Linked DNA regions of Homo sapiens. The protein of the gene in region 2 interacts with the protein of the main gene of each other region in a pairwise test. Each region holds a gene or a part of one and is shown on either strand. Other genes may lie near its edges.

What was found. Proteins that work in one complex are often made in the same cells at the same time.
Region 1: the proteins of EEA1 (region 2) and ZFYVE16 interact in binary tests that used the Homo sapiens proteins (3 or more experiments, as listed by UniProt).
Region 3: the proteins of EEA1 (region 2) and CDC73 interact in a two-hybrid assay, tested with the Homo sapiens proteins (one study listed by BioGRID).

The regions. Positions count from the first base shown.
Region 1 is NC_000005.10:80,403,589-80,411,311, reverse strand, and holds the start of ZFYVE16 (zinc finger FYVE domain-containing protein 16), read right to left. Parts: upstream 3,249-7,723; 5' UTR 3,159-3,248; intron 1,621-3,158; exon of another isoform or gene 1-1,620.
Region 2 is NC_000012.12:92,848,770-92,856,429, reverse strand, and holds part of EEA1 (early endosome antigen 1), read left to right. Parts: intron 1-2,475; coding exon 2,476-2,515; intron 2,516-3,404; coding exon 3,405-3,518; intron 3,519-4,133; coding exon 4,134-4,255; intron 4,256-5,163; coding exon 5,164-5,319; intron 5,320-7,660. UniProt on the Homo sapiens protein: Binds phospholipid vesicles containing phosphatidylinositol 3-phosphate and participates in endosomal trafficking.
Region 3 is NC_000001.11:193,145,619-193,153,278, forward strand, and holds part of CDC73 (parafibromin), read left to right. Parts: intron 1-2,248; coding exon 2,249-2,347; intron 2,348-4,685; coding exon 4,686-4,764; intron 4,765-6,761; coding exon 6,762-6,826; intron 6,827-7,660.

The sequences.
Region 1 (7,723 bases), on a different chromosome or scaffold from region 2:
TATTTTACTTTTTTTTTATAAGCATATACTTGGCCAGCGTGGTGGCTCATGCCTGTAATCCCAGCACTTTGGGAGGCTGAGGTGGGCAGATCACAAGGTCAAGAGATCGAGATCATCCTGGCCAACATGGTGAAACCCTGTCTCTACTAAAAATACAAAAAAAAAAAAAAAAAAAAATTAGCTGGGCGTGGTGGCACGTGCCTGTAGCCCCAGCTACTTGGGAGGCTAAAGCAGGAGAATCGCTTGAACCCCAGGAGGCGGAGGTTGCAGTGAGCCGAGATGGTGCCACTGCACTCCAGCCTGGCGACACAGCGAGACTCCATCTCAAAAAACTAAATCAATAAAAATAAAATAAATTTAAAAAAAAAAGGCATGTGCTCTTGTAAACCGAGAAAACATAATTTTGTTGTTTTCCTTTAAAAAAAAGTACAGCACGTTTCCTAAGGTCGGGTGAGGTGGCTCGTACCTGCAATCCCAGCACTTTGGGAGGCCGAGGCAGGCGGATCACAAGGTCAGGAGATCGAGACCATCCTGGCCAACATGGTGAAACCCTGTCTCTACTAAACTACAAAAATTAGCTGGGCATGGGGGCGCGTGCCTGTAGTCCCAGCTACTCAGGAGGCTGAGGCAGGAGAATCCCTTGAACCCGGGAGGCAGAGGTTACAGTGAGCCGAGATCACGCCACTGCACTCCAGCCTGGCGAAAGAGCGAGACTCTGTCTTAAAAAACAAACAAACAAAGTACAGCACGTTTCCTTACAATATATTTAAGAAGATAAAAATGTGTTAGAAAAACACTTGGATACTGGACTATAAACGAGCAAATAACATCAACAGACAACTAGTAAGATTATGAAAATTATTCAGTGCACTATCAAAGTAATGAGAATTAGAACATATACCATTTATTGCCTGCTAAATTGAAACAATTTTTTAAAATAATAAAAGTACTCGATGTTGGTAAGGGTGTGATTTTTTTTTTTAAAGCATGTCAGACACTGCTGACAGGAAACAAACTGGTACTATCTCCCATGAAAACAATGTGACAATATGTACCAATAGCCTGAGAAAGATTCCTAATATTTGATCTAACAATTATCTTTTTAGAAATTTTAGAAAAGAATCCATGTGTTAAAGCTCTCTTAAAATGTATCTGGCAGTTGTCTGGTTTTTACTGGACTCCCCCCAGCCCCCTCAAAAAGAAAATAATTCAAAACAACTAAAAACATGCAAAGATATTTCACCAAATCATTAGTTGAAACAATCTAAACACCAACATTAGTGCACAAAAGCAAATTATACAGGCATCAAAAGTAATGTGTTTAACAAACTTAAAAAAAAGCAAAACTCTATGACCTAGCAATTCTACTTACAGAAAAAACACTAGCACGCATACACCAGAAAACATCACAAAGAACTTTCACTGTTGCAAGGGTTGTAACAGTGTAAAATTTTAAACAACCTAACAGCCCACCAATCCAAAAATGGTTAAATCAGCTTTCTCAAACTGTGGTCTCAGGACCCCTGGATGTCCCCAGGAGCCTTTCAGCAGGCTTGTAAGATCCTCGCTTTTCCTGCTACGTATCTGTTCAAGGCTGGTGTTTTCTTCATATGCTTCAACCTAAACCAGATAGCACAACAGACTGAACAGAAGCAAACATGAAAATCCAGCTGTCTTCTATAATGCCAGACATTAAAGTGATTCGCAAAAATTTGAAACAATGCCACGCTCCTCTTCTAAGTTTTGTTTTAGAAAATGGTTACTTTTCACTAAAAAATTATTTAATACATGAGTCTGTGATTTTTAAATGAATAAAACATTTTCAATTTTCTGAGTTTTAATTTCCAAAATGGTAAATATACTGCAGCATTAGGAACCAAAAACTCTATTGGTCCTCAATAATTTTTAAGCGTAATTATCCCCAATCATAATGTTAAATGAACTGTAGCACTATTCTATCATGTAACATTATGATTGAGGATAATTAATGCGGATTTGGCTTTATCTGTAATATAACTGTTTCAAAAGATACTTTGCTCATGTATAATCAAGAAGTCATTTTTATGAAGCTTTTTAAAAACATGGGGAAATGCTTACAACGTAATTTAAATCAAGGAAAGCAGACAATCCAACGATATAAAATCTCATCTCAAGAAAATGCACAGGGGAAAAAAAGACTCAAAGGAAAAAAGTCAAAATATTATAAGTAATTGATTACTATTACATGGTGGAATTATGATTGATCATTTTTCCTTATTCTTTATTCTATTTTTTCAATTTTTGCCACTAAGCATGCGGTTTAATATCCAGGAGAGGAAAAAAAGGAAGAAATTAGGCGAAAAATTATATATAGTTCTACTGGATTAAACCATTAAACTCCCGCCAACTCAAGAGACGACAAGCTCAAGTGAATAAATGGAGGAATCTGATTGAATCAACAAAGTGCCTATTTTTTGAATTGAAAAGATTAACTTAATATCAAATGTATGGACTGGTTTTCATACAAGTCAAACTAATAAGAAAGAACATCCTTAGTCTGGAACATAATATTTGCAATCACGATAGTACAAATAAGAGTTAAAAATAAGGTCCTCTTTTGGAGTTCTCAAAAGTACCAAAGGAAAGGCAGCGGGAAAGACGGCCACTGCATCCTTCTGGTCTCTAACCAAGAGAAAATGCATGGGTGCGGGAATGGACAGTGCGAGAGCACCGGCGGCGATGAGACTCCTCTGCGGGGACCGAGCCTCTGCCACTCCTGAAGAACCACAGTCCCCTCCGCAGTCGCAGCCCCTCCCCAGGCGGGACGGCGGCGCCAGGGCGCTTCTCCCTCCGTCCGCTGGGGTCTCTCCCCCAGGAGCGCCGAACACTCCGGCGGCCCGGGAGCGGGGAACCGGGCAAACAGCCGCCGTGATTGCCCTCCCGGTCCAGTCCGGTCTGGCCCTTCAGGCTCCAGGAGGGGACATCAGATTGGAGGGCCAGGGTTCCCCGGCCAGCTCCGGGGGCTCGGAAAAGGAATCGGTCGGGGCCCAGGCTCTGTCCCCAGAGGAAGAGGGCCAGACCCAGCGCCCAGGTCGGCGGGTCCAGCGGTCACCCCGCCCCCCTGTGGGAACAGCAGGGCTGAGGGGAGGCCGAGACGACCGGTCACGGGGGGCTCTTACCTCCCTACAGCCCCTGCGGAGCTTTTTGGGAACTCGACACGACGTCGCGCTGAGGAGTGAAGAGCTACCCCGGCCGGGAGTCCTGGGAGTGCCAGATCCCGGCTCAGGGCTTCTTTCCCCGCCCCACCGGGCAGCGCAGAGAGCGCAGGCGCAGAGGACGCTTTCCTCTTCGGCTCACACGCCCCCTCCCTCGGCATCCGCGGCCGTCTCCAGGCCCGGGGCGCTTGCGCACTACGACGCAGGTTCCGAGCCAAGGGCACTAGATTTCTTACCGGAAGTGCCTGAGTGGGTTGTTGGGTGACGGGGACGCCTGATGATTCGACCTTAGGTCGGGACTCGGTTCTCCACTCGACTGCGGGATCGGGAGGCCACTCGCGTCAGTGTCTGACTTCCTTTACCCTTCGCTAACCTAGAGGCAGCTTCCCCGGCTCCAGCCTTAGCCCTTTGCTGAGCCTGCGCGGCGTTCCGGTCTCTACTGGACAGACCCGCCTTCCCGGCAGCGGGCTAGGCCTGCTCTCCGCGCTGCTGGCCCCTCGGAAAACATAACTTTTTGTTTACTTCAAACTGATTTTACAACACGCTGCCCCCCCGCCTCCCCCGCTTCCCCCGCTTCCCCTTCCTCCTCCCGGCAGCAATAAAAATGCTCCCAGCCAACGCCGAGCTCCAAGCCCCTCCAGCTGACTGGACATTCCCAGCCACACTTTCCTTCCCTTCGCTGCGTTAGTTCTGCATTTTTATTTTAAAGCAGCTGGTAGAACAGCTGTCTCCCTGTCTAAAAGCAAAAGCTGACTTATCTGATGTAGAAATAAAATGTCACTCACTTGATGTATATTTGCTTGTTGAGTTTTGCTATTTTTACCACAAGTTTCCTATAAATTTAAATGAGACCCGGCGCGGTGGCTCACGCCTGTCATCCCAGCACTTTGGGAGGCCGAGGCGGGAGGATCGCTTGAAGTCAAGAGTTCCAGACAGGCCTGGGCAACATAGCAAGACCCTGTCTCTACTAAAAATGAAAATGAAAAAATTAGCCAGGCGTGTTGGCGCGTGCCTGTAGTCCCAGCTACTGGCTGGGAGTCTGAAGTGGGAGGATCACTTAAGCCCAGGAGGTCAAGGCTGCAGTGAGCTCTGATGGCAACACTGCATTCCAGCCTGAGCAACAGAACCAGACCGTGTCTCTAAAAAAATAAAAAATAAAAACAAGGGAAGAGACATACATGTGGGATCAGATACAGACAGATACAGGGAAAAAGCAGTTCCTCAAAGGTTAAACAGCTCACAGTTCATACTGATCTTTCAAAAATCGCAAGAATTGGCCGGGCGCAGTGGCTCACGCCTGTAACCCCAGCACTTTGGGAGGCCGAGGCAGGCGGATCACCTGAAGTCAGGAGTTCGAGACCAATCTGGCCAACATGGTGAAACTCCGTCTCTACTAAAAATACAAAAATTAGCTGGGTGTGGTGGCGGGCGCCTGTAATCCCAGCTACTTGGGAGGCTGAGGCAGGACAATCAGGACCATTGAATGAACCCAGGAGGCAGAGGTCACAGTGAGCCAAGATCGAGCCACCACACTCCAGCCTGGGTGACAGAGCAAGGCTCCGTCTCAAAAAAGAAAAAAAAAAAATTGCAAGAATTATAATTTTTCGAGTATTCCAGCCACATGTGATTTGTGATGAAAGATTTGAGAATCAGGGTTCGCATCTTAAATCTGCAGTTTACAACTATAGTTCCTGATCTTTGAAAGATACTTAATCTTTAACCTTGGTTTTCCTAAACAACAAAATGAAATAGCCAAACTTTTGATTGCCTAAAGTAATGTGTGTATTGAGCATCTGCTTTGTGACAGTGTGTTAGATGCTTTGCTTACGTTATCTCATTTAATCCTAAGAATAATTCTACAAACTACAGTATGCCTTTTTCCTACTATGTGTTAGGCATTGTTCACAGATAAAATAAAATGGGGCCACTGCCCATGGGGAACCACAGTCTAGTAGCAGAGACTCACATATACAAATGCATACTGGGGACAGAAGTATTTATACGGTAAAGTGTGAGGGTAAAGAGAATAGAAAAAAGACACAAACACCTTAAATAGATCAATGGGGAAAGTATATACAATGGTCAGTTCACAAAATATGAAATTTAAATGCCTACTACACATTTTACCAATCAATATTCAAAGTCATTAATAATAAACAGAGACAAAAAAGAGGTTGTCTGGCATCTAATTACCCAATCTGTTTAAAATGTGAATAAACTCGATTGGTGACAGAAGAGTGAAGTGGACACTTATACCCTGGGAGGGATATAAATTGGGACAAAGATTTTGGAAAGTTATTTGTCAAATCATATCAAGAACCTTATGAGTGTTCACATGACCCAATTTGATCATTTCTCTTTTGGAAGTTATAAGAAGGTAGTCCAGAAGACGAAGATCTCTATGGAAAGATACTTAACCATAGTAAGTAAATTGATAAAAGTCGAAAATCCACCATTAAGAGAATGGTTAAAATAATTACTGCATGTATGTGATTAAAACTATTAAAATTATGTTTACAAAGAATTTTTAATGGCCTGAGGAAATTACCTCATGAAAAAACATTTTAAATATTTAAAAATATTTAACATTGCCTATGTAGTATGAGGTCAGCTATAGTATACAATGTATGTAAAAGAGTGAAGAAAGTATATCAAAATGTTGATAGTAGTCATGTCTATCTGATTAGAATGTAGATGTTATTATCCTGGACAGTCTACATTTTCTACAACATCTATATATTACCTTTATATTCTGGGGAAAAAGAAAAAAACCTCTAATGTAACAAGTGTGATAAGTTGACCAGGAAACCTAAGAATCCATTTCCCCTGTCATTTCAAGTATGGTCTTTAGAGTCTGATTACCTGAATTTGAATTCTAATTCTATAACCTATTAGTTGTGTGGCCTAAATTTTCTAAGCTTGATGCTCCTGTAGTCAAATGCTAATAGAACTAATACATTGATTGAGATAATCCACATAAAGTACTTAACTGAAGCACTGACTGTAAATGATGAATAACTGTTATTCTTTTTTTTTTCTTTTTTTGACAGGATCTTACTATATCACTCAGGCTGAAATGCAGTGGTTGGATCATGGCTCACTGCAGCCCCAACTCCTGGGGCCCAAGTGATCCTCCTACCTCAGCCTCCAGAGTAGCTGGGACCACAGGCGTGCATCACCATGCCCAGATAATTTTTATTTTTATTTTTTTAAAGACAAGGTTTCACTATGTTGCCTATACTGGTCTCAAACTTCTGGGCCCAAGCAATCCTCCCAATTAGAATTCAAATTCAGGTAATCAGGTAGTCAACCTCCCAAAGTGCTGGGATTACAGACATTAGCCACTGTGCCAGCCTAACAATTGCTATTCTTGATGGTTATATTTCTTTTTATAAATTGATCAGTTACATCCATGTTGTTATATCAGTAGCCTATGAATTTGGCTAATGCAAGTATAAGTTCCCTGGAGCACAATTACTTGCAAATACATTTTAAAACTGAATTTCTTAGTCTACTAAACTGAGAATAAGATACAGGGACTTGATGACCACTCCACATGTTTGTCACTATATGAAGACTCGTTTGCTCTGTTTTTGTTTCTGTTTTTGTTTTTTAAGGAGAATTAATAAGTTTGTTCATATAAAATTTGTAGCCTTTGATTACCTTTTAATGCCAAATGTCTACTAAAAATTTAATCTGCTAACAAAGCAATTGCAATACTTTTAGTAGATGTTTAGAATTATAATAACCTTTCCTAATTATGCTTTGAAAGAGTATTTAATTTGGGTTCCACAAAACTTCTGATCTATAAAGTAGTAAAAATAGATGAAATCAACCAACAAACCAAAGTTCAAATCAATGACTACTACTTTAGCCCAATAGTTCTCTGTGGAGGTGAGGGGTGATTTTGCCTCCCAGAGGACGTTTGACAATCTCTGGAGGCATTTTTGGTTGTCACCACTGAAAGAATGCTACTGATATCTAATAGATACAGGCCAGGGATGCCGCTAACTGTCTTGCAATTCACAGGAGAACCCCCAACAACAAAGAAGTTTTCAGCCTAAAATATCAACAGTGCCAAGGTTGAGAAACCCTGATTTAGCCAGTGAGTGGTTTAAAGCTAGTATATTTCTTCCAATTCCTAGTAAACAGTTCCTTTTTTTTTTTTTTTTCTGATGACCACAGCGGCACAAATGTGAGTTCAGAAATTCAGAACTGGGTTTTGAACTTCTACATAAGGCCCTATACCAATGAAAATTAAACTTTGTACCAAGTAGTACCCAAAGTTAACTAGATTAGAGATAAAAAATCTACAATGACCAGTTTTATGGAGCAGACAGCTGGTCAGTTGTACTCTGGCACAGAAAAATGCTCCATTCCTATTGTTCAGTTGCACCAGACACACGTATCATCACTTATTACTAAGAACCACTTTATAAATAGCTGTCATTTATTGATCACCTACTGTTTTCAGCCTTTATCTTATAAGTAAACCAGGTGTTCTCGCAGTATGAACATTGTTGCTCATC
Region 2 (7,660 bases):
TACATAGAGAAAAACAGAAGAAAATCACTGCAGTATCAAAAGTGGTTCTCTTTGAATAGGATTTTTTTGATGTCTTAGATTCTATATAGTTTAGTGTATTTTCTAAGTAAATGCCTTAATTATGATTTTTATGCTGAAATTATATTGATTTTATTCTGAAATTATAGGAAGAATCAAAGATTAACGAAGTTTTACCAAATAATTTTACCATAGTCATCATTTGTAAGAATAAAAGTAGTTACCCTTCAGCAATAGTTCTAATATTTTTGTAAAGTAATTAATAATCCCTTTGCATGTTATCTTGGCATATTGTGACTTTCAGTGAGGCTTGTTTGCTTTTTAAAGCCTTTGCACCAAGAATTGGCAGTTGGACTGAAAAAGACAAAAACAAATAAATAAATGACAAGATAATCAGTCTTATTACTACTCAGCTTTTCTAATTGGTGATTCTGTTAACATTAAAGGAGTTTTTAGTAATCCAAATTACTTATAACTCATTTACTCATGTTTTATATAGATGCCATTAATAATTAATTGAGTATGGGCTGTATTCTTTTCTGTATCTGAAAGCAGAGTGGAAATTGTTTACTGCATTTGAGATGACTATTTCACATTTAATACACTTAAATAACTTTTCCACAGTGCAAGATGTAAGTTACCTTGGCAGGAAATTTACCTTTTGGGGAAAATATATTTTAAATACTTAAGGTTCTTAGCAATCAGTATGTCTTAGTTCAATGTATAGAGAAACAAAAAGTCAGATATACTAGGAAATGCCTTATTAAACTCTTTCAGATGGGTATAATTCTTTAAAATATAAAAATAATGCCAAGGTAGTATATTATTTTGTTCCTAATACATGTGACAAATTAAGCCTTATGGAATCTGTTATTTCTGCTTCTTTTAAAGTTGACTTGTCCTGAATTAAAAATTTATGCTTATAAAGCCAATTTTTTTAGTAGTGATAGTTTGATAGCATTTTTTTTTTTTTTTTTTTTGAGACAGAGTCTCGCTCTGTCACCCAGGCTGGAGTGCAGTGGCGCGCGATCTCGGCTCACTGCAAGCTCCGCCTCCCATGTTCACAGCATTCTCCTGCCTCAGCCTTCCTAGTAGCTGGGACTACAGGCACGTCCGCCATCAGGCCGGCTAATTTTTTGTATTTTTAGTAGAGACGGGGTTTCACCATATTAGCCAGGATGGTCTCGATCTCCTGACCTCGTGATCCGTCCGTCTCGGCCTCCCAAAGTGCTGGGATTACAGGCGTGAGCCACCGCGCCCGGCCGTGATAGGATGTTTTAACTAATGCAAGTTTTAGTAGTGATAGCTTGATAGCATGTTTTAACTAATGCAAATGTTCAACTATTATAGGTGTTCTGTTTGATTGTAATAAGAAGCATGATTTGAAGTATGATTTCATGAATTGCATGGTTTATTGCCAAAGAGAGATTTTCTTCGGTTCACAGTGCTTAAAAGGGAGAGAAATAACATGAACAAATCTTACAGGGAATATCAATAGATGAGGTATATTAACCATATAGTGGGTGAGTTCCAAAATTATTAAAGTCTAGTCACTTTCTCAGGATGGAAGCAGGCTTTTGTGAAAAGTAAAGTCTAAAAGGGTTGAGGTGTACCTTTTTTTATGAGCAGTCTCTCTGGAGAGATGGCATCCAAAACAGTGGAGATCCCAGACAATGGGGATCTCCTGCTGCTAGAGGAGATGTAGGTGTTGGCTGCCGAGACTCAAAGATCTAAGGCCAATAGGATATGGCCCTATTGCAGCATGAGCTGCCAGTCTCAAAGAAAGCAGCTGAAAAAGTGCAGCCTGCCATGGCCTAAGCTTTCAAAGTATCTTTCAAACTCTTTGGTTAATATGTATTTTGAAGTCCAGTAGTTGAGGTCAGTAGCTCAGATCTGCGGTATGATAAGGTCTGATGTAATACTACTGAAGAGAGGAGAAGTTCATTCCAAGTTCTCACATATGGGGTCTAACAGGTATTACATGCTTGAGCGGAGGGGGATAACACTCCAAGTTCTTATGACAGCAAAATATGTAGCATCCATGTAGCAAACTATGTTAGTGTTAGAAGTTATTTCAAAGCTACATACTAATACGATTGAATGTTGCCAGTTGACTTAAGTATTTGTTTTAGAATCTATATTTATAATTACAATAATTGTGCTATTTATTTATTACTGAATTCATGGAATTTAAGATGACCATAATAACTTCATATATATTAACATACAAAAAAATCTATGTTAGAACTAATAAACTGAAGTTAGATCATTAGGCTAGTCTGCCTGCTGGTCTCTTACAGATCTGGAAGAATGGAAACCACCAAATTTAAATTTTCACCAAAATCTTACTACTTACCTGAAAGAAAGTGACTTTCAGAGATTTTTTAACATTGACCATTTTAACAGTATTATCTTTTCCTTTTAATTCATTTGTTTATGTCTTTTGTTTTAATTGAGGAGGCCAAACCTGATGGGTTGGTGACTGATTCATCAGCAGGTAACTTTACTTAAAGCAGATATTTTGTCAGTTTTCTTTTTCTTCTTATTTGTTTTCCTTTCTTTTTCTTTGATGCCTGCCAAATGAATTTTGTTTCATGGTTATGCTTTATGACTCTAAAACAGTGAAGATAATGGTCATATTCTAGGTGTAGAGAGTTACATGTGAACTTCATAATTTAATCAGTTAACTAAAAGTTTAGTTTTTTTAGTTCATTATATTTTGAAGTAAGAAACTTCTGGAATATTACATTAATATGGTTGTTTAATGAAATTTTAAGTCTATATTAAGAGTAAGATAGTTTATTTTCTTTATGATGAAGTATTAGGAGTTGACTGCATACTTTAATGAATTAAAAGGCCTTGAGATCTTAACCATTTCCAACATCCCGCTTTATAACTAATTTTATCAGAGGAGCAGAATGTTTTCCTTTTTGAGCCAGGCTTGGTGGCTCATGCCTATAATCCCAACACTTTGGGATACTGATAGGGGAGGATGGCTTGAACCCAGGAATTTAAGATCAGCCTCCGTAACATAGCGAGACCCCATCTCTTAAAAAAAAGATAAGGGGTGTATTCCTTTTTGGTCATTTGATGGATATGGGAAAATAACTGTGAAATGTGAAATCAAAATAACTTGTAATAAAATATTTATAGATTATTTAGCAGTGATTCTAAATATTCATTTCATTTGTAGTGTATGTTTGTAAATTATGATTTGTACCTTAAGTGAAGCAGATATACTTAATTTCTTGAAGTGTCAAAATACTACTTGTAATTGGATAATAAACTTAAGTTGATCATCTTTACAACTGTAATAAATATAAGTAATAACAATTTAGCATATGTAATTAACATGGTATTTGAATAACTGCGACACTTTTTTGTAGAACTACAGTCTTTGGAACAGCAATTAGAAGAAGCCCAAACAGAAAATTTTAATATTAAGCAAATGAAAGACTTATTTGAACAGAAAGCAGCCCAACTTGCTACTGAAATTGCAGGTAAATTGAGTTAGAATTTTTTAGCCAATAAATCAATCTCATTACCTTTTTGCCATTATATACCCTAGCAATAAATATAGTATTTTAGTGTGTTAAAGCATTTGTGATAGACTTCCAATGGTGATTAATGGAATTTAATGATTTCAGAGTTGCTATGTAAATTATTTTGTTTGTCCTCTAGCTGCCTGCCTTCAAAGGACTGGTGTTTCTTTGTAGATTCTTCTTGAAATTTAGAGAAGATACATTTTCTTCTGTGGCATGCTTAAAGATTAAAAAGGAACATTTTAAAGAAGTGAAGTAAATAATGTAGTATAAATGTAACACTTGGTTATACTATTACATATATATGTTTTTAACATGTGCTTTTAGGTAAAATATGTGATTAAGTACATTAAAATGCTAATTATTAACTTAATGTTGAGTGGAATTTATGTAGACAGTTAATTTTAAGTTCATTTCATGTAATTAGAAGTATAAATTTACTGTATATATTTATGGTTATCTAAGGAATGTGAATTTGAATTAGAGTGATATACAGATATGCAGAGTAATATATGGAAACTTATAAAACTGTCCTCCCCTTAAACTAATATTTATATAACTATCTTTAATTAGATATAAAGTCAAAGTATGATGAAGAAAGGAGTCTTCGAGAAGCTGCTGAACAAAAAGTGACACGTCTGACAGAAGAATTAAACAAAGAGGCAACTGTAATTCAAGATCTGAAGACGGAACTGGTAATTTAGGAATTATTTATTGAGATGTACTCTTATACCTTTCTAAATTAAAAATAAAATACATACCCTGAAGGAAAATGTTTAAAAATATAATTTGAGTGAAATCAGGAAATAAGCAATTCCCTATATTCTACCACCTGCATATATATTCTGTATATGATTTTTAAAATAAAAATGGAATGTTATGATACGTAACTTACTACCTTAACATTTTTGTTGTTTCTATCTAAATATCATCTGTCATTTTAGTAGTTTTCATATCTGCATCTCTGATCCTGGTCTTCTCTTGCATGTTTGTTTTATAAATCCATCTGCTTTTAGGGTACTTTGTGTTGAATTTCTAGCTTTAATTTCAAATTCAACAAGTATAAAATCAAAGTAATCATGTTTCCTCATTACTGTATTTCTGTTATTGGAACCATACATCTCTAATACTCTCCCAAGACTTAATAATCTTGGATCTGTCCTTGACTTTCTTTCCTTTATTTAGCTCTCAATAAATATATAAATTAACTACATCCAACCTGGAGCAAACTCTATGCTTTCATTTGCTCCTTCATTTTTATTACCAGTTTTGTAGGATAGAAAAAGAAGGAATGTAGCATTTTCAAGTCACTGTTATGACCAATAGATGTAGTTTGTGAAGGGAAGGAAAACAAATAAAGTAGTAAAGATAATTGTGAATTTACTATACAGCACCTTGAGTATTAATACTATTAAATATGAGGTAGGATGGGAAGAGGAAGTGGCTTATTGTGGGAGAAGATATCAGTGTTCAATGTTTGAAGTCTAAAAATTGATATTGATGATTGTTTCCCTTTTGATTCCTTTGTAGTGAAATGATTCTAAAAATGTGTATTATTTTAGTTTTTCACTTTAATTTTTAATTAAAATGTGTTGTTTCACAGCTTCAGAGACCTGGTATAGAAGATGTTGCCGTGCTAAAGAAAGAACTGGTCCAAGTTCAAACACTAATGGATAACATGACCTTGGAACGTGAGCGAGAATCTGAAAAACTCAAAGATGAATGCAAAAAATTGCAGTCACAATATGCTAGCTCAGAGGTAATGAAGTTCATTGTACTTAAATGTGATTCATATTAGCTTGTGTAGTGTATACTATTGAGTGAAGCCAGGATTTGAGATTTTTCTGAGTGGCCTATCAAAATATTTGTCTTTCTTTCATTTTTGATCTGAATAATATTTGTTTATAGTCAATGTGGTCTCTCAGTATGTTTTGCTTTATAAAGCTAGACACTCAGGAATATTTGCATAAAGATTATTATTCTGTTTAATATATATATTGTTGACATGATATTTAAGGTTAAATTTACTCAAGGTTGGTTGATAAATGGTAATTGACTTTAAAGGAAGAATGATAGCATTTTCTACAATTATATTACCAATTTTGTTTAGAAAATATATTTAAGAAAGGCTTATTTTGTAATAAGCTTATTTCTTTTTTTTTTTTTTTTTTTTTTTTTTTGAGACAAAGTCTTGCTCTGTCACCCAGGCTGGAGTGCAGTGGCGTGATCTCAGCTCACTGCAACATCCACCTCCCGGGTTCAAGTGATTCTTCTGCCTCAGCCTCCCAAGTAGCTGGGATTACAGGTGCCTGCCACCACGCTTGGCTAATTTTTGTATTTTTAGTAGAGATGGGGCTTCACCATGTTGGCCAGGCTGGTCTCGAACTCCTGACCTCAGACGGTCTGCCTGTCTTGGCTTCCCAAAGTGTTGGGATTACAGGCGTGAGCCACTGCACCCGGCCATAAGCTTATTTCTAATTGATGGACTTTGAATTATGAATTTGAAAGAAGTCTTGAACTAGTCTAAATTCAGTCCAGAACTTCCCTTTATGCCAACCCTGCTAAGTGATCCACAATCCTTGCTAGGTGGTGTACGGTGTGCATATTTCTTCCTAAGTCTATTTTATTGAGCTGACATTTGTTTCCCTGTAATTTACATGCGCTGGTTCTGGTTCTGTCCTTAGGAATTACACAGAATAAATTGTTCCTCTTTCCACATGAGGTATTTGAAGACTGCTCATATTTATTCGGAGTATTTCTCTTCCAAGATAAACATTTTCAGTTCTTCTACTATTTCTTACATGACATGACTTTGGCCTGTAAATCCCTTGTATAATATGTCAGCATTTAATAAACTCTAAGATGTATAATACATAAATGTGCTTAAAAATCCTAGCCTTTGTCCTTTTTACTTTATTATAGGAGACATTTTGTTATGACTACTGTTATTTGTAGTCTTTAAGCTCCCTTATGTAAAGTAGACCTCTGATTTTCATATTTTCAGTTTAAAAAGTTGTTACCGTAACATTTTAATTTGAATCTCTTCCTTAGAGTTTTGTAACTGGTGATCTAAAAGCCACTCTATTCACAAATATAACATGTCATCAAGCTTTGGGGTATAAGTATTATAGATAACCCATGTCTAATTCATTTTTAAAAATCTTTCTTTATCTTATGGGAAGAGATGGTGAAAGTTTGTGGATATAACACACATAGGCATGTAAGGCCTTATGATGCCTAACACTACACTCTCTAACTTATGATATTTGGATGCAGTTTTTCCAAAATTGACACTTTGTAGCCCAATAACACTTAATTCCAAAAATTTTCAAACAATTTCAGGTGGTTCATGAACTTACTGAAGCCAGTTAAAAGCTCTTGTCCTACTGGTATTATTAATCAGCAGAAGACAATGATAAATCTATAAGTACAAATGTGAAATCAAGGAGAGGCTGAATCAAAGAAGTCTCATGAGGAAAAGTGCTATTCAGATGTTAATGTCAAAATACCTAAACCAGGGTGAACCCAGTCATTTATTTCTTTGTATCAGTAAGAACTATTTTTGTTTAGATATGTCTGCCTATTGGTATTTCTCAAATTAAAAAAAAATACACTCCCTTTTGATTAAAAAATATCTTAAATGCTATTTGAAATTTTAAAATAAATGTATTATGGTGACTAAAACAGAACCAAATTAATGTCAGTTTTAGGAATATGTATTTTAAAGTTGAGTCCTCTCTGACTTATTCCAGCTGCAAGTTTTGGAGTTATGCATATACTTTTTAAACAAATAGAACATTAACAAGGAAAATAAATTTACATGTTTACTTGCATTTAAAAAAAATACAGGCTGAGTATGGTGGCTCACCTCTATAATCCCAGGACTTTGGCAGCTGAGGCAGGCAGATTGCTTCAGTCCAGGAGTTTAACCAGCCTGGGCAACATGGTGAAATCCTGTCTCTATAGAAAGTTAGCCAGACGTGCTGGCACGTACCTGTACTCCCAGCTAGGTGGGAAGCTGAGGTGAGAGGATTGCTTGAGCCCAAAAGGTTGAGGCTGCAGTGAGCCATGATCACACCACTGCACTCTAGCCTGGGCGA
Region 3 (7,660 bases), on a different chromosome or scaffold from region 2:
TCAATTTTAATCTTTAATTCAATAGATACTGTAGTTCACACAAACTTAAAGCTCTTTGGGGTGCTCAGTAATTTGTAAGAGTGCAAAGGGGTCCTGAGACTTATATTTGCTGCTCCAGAGAATTATAGGAACTAGTTAGCACTGCAACTGGTATAGTGATAATAGTTATGTTTCAAGCAGCCTCTCATTTTATATACATATTTATTTGTATAGTATTTATTTAACATCTACAAACTAGGCAAGTGCTAAACACTGACCAGAGGTGCATTGGTCCTAGCTCTCACAGAAGTTATACTCTTCAGCAGAAGTCAATATTAAATAAGCGGTAATTATTACGTACATTATAGGGCAGACACCCAGCAAGGGCAGTTAACTTAGTTGAGAGTAAAGAGGAGTGATACCTAAAGAACAAAAACTAGTGAGGGAGGTGAGAGGGGTAAGGTGGGAAGAGTGGTCCCAGCCAAGGAAACAGAATGCCTTGTTTAAAGAAGAGAAATTATGTTGTATTTGAGGTTCATGAGGGCAGCGACCATGTCTTTTTTGATCATCATTGTACCCAAGTGCCAAGCAAGGTGTTTGGCTTAGAGTAGATTCTTACTACATATTCCTTCAAATGTTAAGTGATTGATAGGCAGCATAAGAAGAGCCCCAAAGGAACTGTCAGACATTAGGGGTAAAACCAAGAGAGAGTAGCATCTCAGAGGCCAAGTATCTTTGTCTGTTTTGTGCTGCTGTGGATATCACAGACTGGGTAATTTATGAAGACAAGAAATTTATTTCTCATATTTCTGTAGGCTGGGAAATCCAAGAGCATAGCAGTGGCATCTGGTGAGGGTCATTTCATGGCAGAAGGCAGAAGCAAGCAAGCAAGCAAGCAAGCAAGCAAGCAAGCAAGCAAGCAAATGAGACACAGAGAGAAATGGGGCCAAACTTACTCTTTCGGGAATCCGAGCCCACTTTTGCAATAACAACATTAATCCATTCGTAAGGGTGGAGCCCTATGACCTACCTAATCACCTCCTAAAGGCTCCACCTCCTAATACTATTAGAATGGAATAAAATTTCAACATGGGTTTTAGAGGAGACATTCAATCCATAGCATGAAGGAAGAATATTTCATGAAGGAAAGAGTCGTCAGATTAGTTAGCTGTGTTGACTTTTGATCAGCATGTAATTGCATTGTGAGTTGAAGAGCATTTGTACTTGTACTTTCCAACTTACACATCTTTGAAAAGTGTACATTGACTTCTGATAGTATCTCAAAACTCATATGTAGCAATCTGAAATTAGCACTGGAGTTTAACAGGAGGATGTAGTAGTTGATTATTTTTTTTTCTGAACTAGAAGCCTCTTTTGACAAATGTATTTATATTTTATTTAGATTTTTTTTTTTAGACGGATTCTTGCTCTGTCTCCCAGGGTGGAGTGCAGTGGCGCTATCACGGCTCACTGCAAGCTCCACCTGCTGGATTCACGCCATTCTCCTGCCTCAGCCTCCCAAGTAGCTGACACTATAGGTGTCCACCACCACGCCCAGCTAATTTTTTGTAGTTTTGGTAGAGACGGGATTTCACCGTATTAGCCAGAATGGCCTCAATCTCCTGACCTCATGATCCACCTGCCTCTGCCTCCCAAAGTGCTGGGATTACAGTCACGAGCCACCGTGCCCGGCCTTATTTAGATTTTAACTTGCTTTCTGGTTATATATTTGAACAGATGCAGAATATGAATACATTTGTAGCAGTTTTTTTTTTCTTTTTTTTTTTTGAGATGGAGTCTCGTTCTATTGCCCAGGCTGGAGTGCAGTGGCATGATCTTGGCTCACTGCAAACTCCGCCTCCCGTGTTCACACCATATTCCTGCCTCAGCCTCCCGAGTAGCTGGGACTACAGGCACCTGCCACCACGCCCAGCCAATTTTTTGTATTTTTAGTAGAGACGGGGTTTCACCTGTGTTAGCCAGGGTGGTCTCCATCTCCTGACCTCGTGATCTGCCTGCCTTGGCCTCCCGAATGTAGCAGTTTAAGTAAAATGAAAATGATGAAATGAATACCATGGGATTTACAATAATCAGTCTCTGGATCAATATCTTAGTAGTGGTTGGTTTTTACATATGTGTATAATAATGATACCTTATGACATATGTAGTAGGGAAGAATCGATAGTAAGATAACTTAGTCTTAAATTATCAACTAAATTTACTATTGTATATTTAAAGTGGGCTTAATTAAAATCCATTTATATTTTAGAATTTTTCCAAGAACATTTTTGCAATTCTTCAATCTGTAAAAGCCAGAGAAGAAGGGCGTGCACCTGAACAGCGACCTGCCCCAAATGCAGCACCTGTGGTAAGAATGCTTTACTGCTTTACAGTAGATTTAATGAAGTTGCCACTTATATTGCAGTGTAGTAACGTTGAAGACATCTTCACATTTTAAAATCAGTGGATTCTAAACCTTTTGCTCCTTTAGCATATCTGAAAGATGTGAAAGCCCTCCCCAACATTAAAAGTTACTTACTTCAGCAGTAATTCTTAACTGGAGCAGTAATTCTTAATATACCTGGGTCAGAGTCTGAAAAAGGTTAATTAGGGAAAGCCCTCTATTTATTTTAGGTAAACTGTGGCTGGCCTACTCATTGTTGCTTGGGACAATTGCTAACCATTGTTAATAACATAAATCCCTGTTAACTCCCAGTTTGGGGTTCTTTTTGGCATTGTATCTATTACATCTTGGTGAATGTATTTCTCTTGATCACCAGCCATGCTGTCCTTTAATTGTACCTCCATTTCAGCTGCTCTGAGAGTTGACTGCCTTCTCTTTGAAGTGCCACTTAAGACCCTCCCAAAGTAAATTTCACGTATGACATATAGCCTATATTTAAATTCAAACATCCTCTAATTTTGTTGAAAATCCTTCCAGCTATTTTCATATGATTCAACAAAGGAATAAAACATACAAATGAAATTGTTTCTATTTTCTGCAATAGAAAATAGAAGATTCTATAAATAGAAAATTTATAATTTTTTTTTTTTTTTTTTTTTTTTTTGAGACAGTCTCACTCTGTTGCCCAGGCTGGAGTCAGTGGCACGATCTTGGCTCACTGCAACCTCCGCCTCCTGGGTTCAAGCGATTCTTCTGCCTCAGCCTCCCAAGTAGCCAGGATTACAGGCGCATGCCACCCCACCCAGCTAATTTTTGTATTTTTAGTAGAGATGGGGTTTCGTCCTGTTCAAGACCAGGCCGGTCTTGAACTTCTGACCTCAGGTGATCTGCCCACCTCGGCCTTCCAGAAAACCTTCTATATTTTTAAAACTCTGTTTCAAGTTTTAAAAGGCACATTGAAATGTATTAGAGTACTAATACAGCCTTTGCAACTACTTTGTAGTAGTTTTATTTGCTCATGAAATTGTTGGAATTTAACTTTTAAAGATGGTAGGCTTTTGTTGATAATTAGATAAATACTTTTAGTTGACTCTCCATCAAGTACTTAAGTGCCTTCTATTAGGAAGTCTGCTAATGATCTTGAGATACAATAGTGAGAAAGATTATAGTCCCTACTTTCTTTGAGCTTATAGTCTAATACAGCAGTCCCCAACCTTTTTGGCACCAGGGACCAGTTTCGTAGAAGACAGTTTTTTCATGGACCAGGGGGAGGTTTTTGGAATGAAACTGTTCCACCTCAGATCCTCAGGGTTTAGTTAGATTCTCAAACGACCATGTAACCTAGATCTCTCAGCAGTTCCCTACTTATTAGATGTTTTTTTTTTTTTAAAGTAGTGGAGTAAGAGCTATGATGGCAAAGCACAAGGTACTTAGAATTATGAATTTGTTGACATTTTGAATAGCTGTTGATAGGAAACATGTCAAACCTTAAAACAGTTTTACCATTTGTGACTGATTATTCTTTCTGTATATTTATATAATCGTTAGAATACTTGAAGGTTTTAATGTTTGGCATTTGACTATAGAAGTATATGCCTAGTGTGAAGTAAGCATATACTTATCATTCTTGATAGGTATTGATAAGTATATTTTATTTGGCATAATATTTGATATAGAATCCTATCATAATAAAATGAAAAGTATTTCAGTCTTCATGAATTTTCCAAGTAGCTTTGGGAATATTCCTAAATATGTGTTTTTAGTTTGTTAAACATTGTGAGTTTTGATAAAGTATTTGTGATTAAATAATGCATCATTAGACTGACAGCCTTTTCTAATTATTTAAAAAAAATACGTCTTCAGTCTTACTCTGTTTATAATGGATTAATCATCATGGCTTTCATGTTTATTTAAGGATTAATAATTTGGGTTTTTTTGTTTTGTTAAAACAATCATAATTGCAGGGAAGAGTATTATGTCGTAAAGGTACTTTAGCCAGGTATGGTGGCTCATGCCTGTAATCTTAGCACTTTGCGAGACTGAGGTCGATCACCTGAGGCTGGGATTCAAAACCAGCTTGAGCAGCATGGTGAAACTTTGTCTTTATAAAAAAAAAAAAATTAGCTGAGTGTGGTGGTGCATGCCTGTGGTCCCAGCTACTTGGAAGGCTGAGGTGGGAGGATCACTTGGGCCCAGGAGGTCTTGGCTGCAGTGAGCCATGGTCATGCTACTGCACTCCAGCACATTAAATAAGTGACATTTAAAAATATTAACAAGTAACTCATAATTAATTTTTTTACAGGATCCCACTTTGCGCACCAAACAGCCTATCCCAGCTGCCTATAACAGATACGATCAGGAAAGATTCAAAGGAAAAGAAGGCAAGTTGCTTAATTCTTATCTTCCCCTTAGTGTGGTTGTGTTGAACTTGAGAGGCAGTGTGGCCTGATGTTTAAGGGTAAGGGTTGGCAAAGTAATGTCTACAGACCAGATCTTACCCACTGCAATTTTTCTTAAATAACATTTTGTTGGGACACAACCACACTCATTCATTTATGTATTTTATATATGGCTGCTTTGGCTTTGTGACATCAGTATTGAATTGTTTCAGTAGAGACTGTGTAGCCTACAAAGCCTAAAAATATTATCTGGCCCTTTACAGAAAAAAAGTTGGCCAACCCCTGGTTAATAGCATGGATTCTGGATCCAGATAGCTTATGTCGTAGTAACTTTTTGTGTGAATTTTAATGTTACTTTAACTGCATTCTGCCTTAGTTTTCTCCTGTGTATAATTAAAATGTTATTATAGTGCCTGTCTCTTACCATTATTGTGAGTATTGGACTGGTTAATAAATATTGAATTCCCAGAATAGTATCTGATATGTAAGTAAATTATCTATAAATGTTTGCTGTTATTCATACTGCTTTTGTTTTTATATAATTTAAAGTAGAGATTCTATATGTTAAGTCATTTTTCCCAAGTTATAAATGTGTATGTACATTGAGAACTTGGAAACAAATTTTGAGCAATGATGGGAGGACTTACTTTGTGATAGTCTACGTGGTATTCTGGCTAATGCAATAACACCATTTCTGCAGTTGTGAGGTGAGACTAATGTCAGTGTAACTTCCTCTTGGGATCTTCATTCATCATGACTTGATTCATGAAAATATTAGGTAGAAGCAACTGGAAGTTAATGATATTTTTAAGCATAATCTGAAATCTTCATTTAAGTTTTTTTTAAATGATATGTTGCCTTGATGCAATGAATTTTGTGTGCTGACTTCATTCAGTTGTTAAAGGCATGCACTGGATATGTGCCATAGAAAGACTACGTCCATTCTTTCATTATAATATTCAATGTTTTTCTTGAGGAATGAATTATATAAAGCAGAGGTTGATAAATTACAGCCCCCAAACTAAATATCACCCTCCATGGGCCAAATTGGGTTGCCCCCAATTGATCACATATATTGTTTATTCTGCTTTTGCACTAAAATACAGAATTGGGCAGTTGTGACAGATTTTAAGGCTTGCAATGTGTTAAAATATTTGCCTTTACAGAAAGGCATATTGGGATTCTGTCCTGGCACTCCAATCATTATTTACAACATTGCTTTCTATAAAATATGTAATATGGTTGATTGCTGTAGCTCACACCTGTAATCCCAGCACTTTTGGAGGTGGAGGCAGGAGGATTGCTTGAGTTCAGTACTTTGTGACCAGCCTGAGCAACATGGCAAAACCGCATCTCTACTAAAAATACAAAAAAATACCTGGGTGTGGTGGTGCATGCCAGTGGTCCTAGCTACTCGGGAGGCTGAGGTGGGAGGATTGCTTGAACCTGTGGAGGGGGGATGGGAGAAGAGGTTGCAGTGAACTGCAGTGCCACTGTACTCCAGCCTAGGTGACAGAGTGAGACCCTGTCTCAAAAGAAAAAATATATATGTATGTATGTATATAAAAATAAGTATATGCCTTATGACTGAAACTTTGGAACACTACTTTTTATAACTTTGGGTCTTTTCATGGTATTAGATGCTTTTAGTGGTACTATCATTGAGTATTAGTAGTAAGTAATTTGGGGTTATAAAGTATTCAATCTTAATTTTTGAACATAATTGCAGAGATAGTCTTAACCAGCTTCTATACAATAGGCTTGCTGGTCTGTATTTAATATATTAATATTTTTTAACCTAGAGTCCTTTTTAAAGTTTTTATCTTCACAAGTACGTAATTTAATTTTACATAGTAGATTCAAGGCTTTGTATATTATTGAACCATCACATTCAATGTAGATTATTACTTTAGATTTGTTATAGGTCATAAGATACATGATCTATAAAATCTTAACAATAAGCCTCTTTTTTTTCGTAGAAACGGAAGGCTTCAAAATTGACACTATGGGAACCTACCATGGTATGACACTGAAATCTGTAACGGTAAGTTAATTTGGCTGTAGATGTTCTTTTGTTCCAGGGATTTTATGTGAGTAGCACATGTTGAAGTAAATCTTTAGTCTCTCATATTTTTTATTTCAAACATTTTTCTTTATTGATCACTTGTGCTGATTGATCTGTGTGGTGTATTATTTGATTCATGGGTATCCTGTTTCATTTTTCTTTTCCTTCAAATTAAGTTGAATATATGTAAATAAAAGCTGATTTGATTAACTTGCAAGTAGGGCAATGCCACCTGGTCAGTATTTAAAGCCTTTAAGTTATGAGGTCAGTTTGGGAGAGCTTTTTCGCATAATATCTTTTGTTTTTATTTTTATTTATTTATTTATTTTTTTGAGACAGAGTCTCGCTCTGTCGCCCAGGCTGGAGTGCAGTGGTGCGATCTCGGCTCACTGCAACCTCCGCCTCCCGGGTTCACGCCATTCTCCTGCCTCAGCCTCTGCGAGTAGCTGGGACTACAGGTGCCCACCACCATGCCCAGCTAATTTTCTTGTATTTTTAGTAGAGACGGGGTTTCGCTGTGGTCTGGATCTCCTGACCTCGTGATCGCCCGCCTCAGCCTCCTGAAGTGCTGGGATTACAAGTGTGAGCCACCGTGCCCAGCCTTGTTTTTAACAATGTAATGTCTTTCGCTCTTTAAAGAGATGGATTATAGTGATTATAATGCTTACAAAGTATGTAATTAACAGAACTAAATACTTGGGTATCTGTGAATATAAGCCTTTGGTTCATGTTTAGCAAACTTTCTTTTTTTAACCTAAAAATGGTTATTTCTATATATTCTGACCAAGCCATATTTAACATTTTAAATTTTTA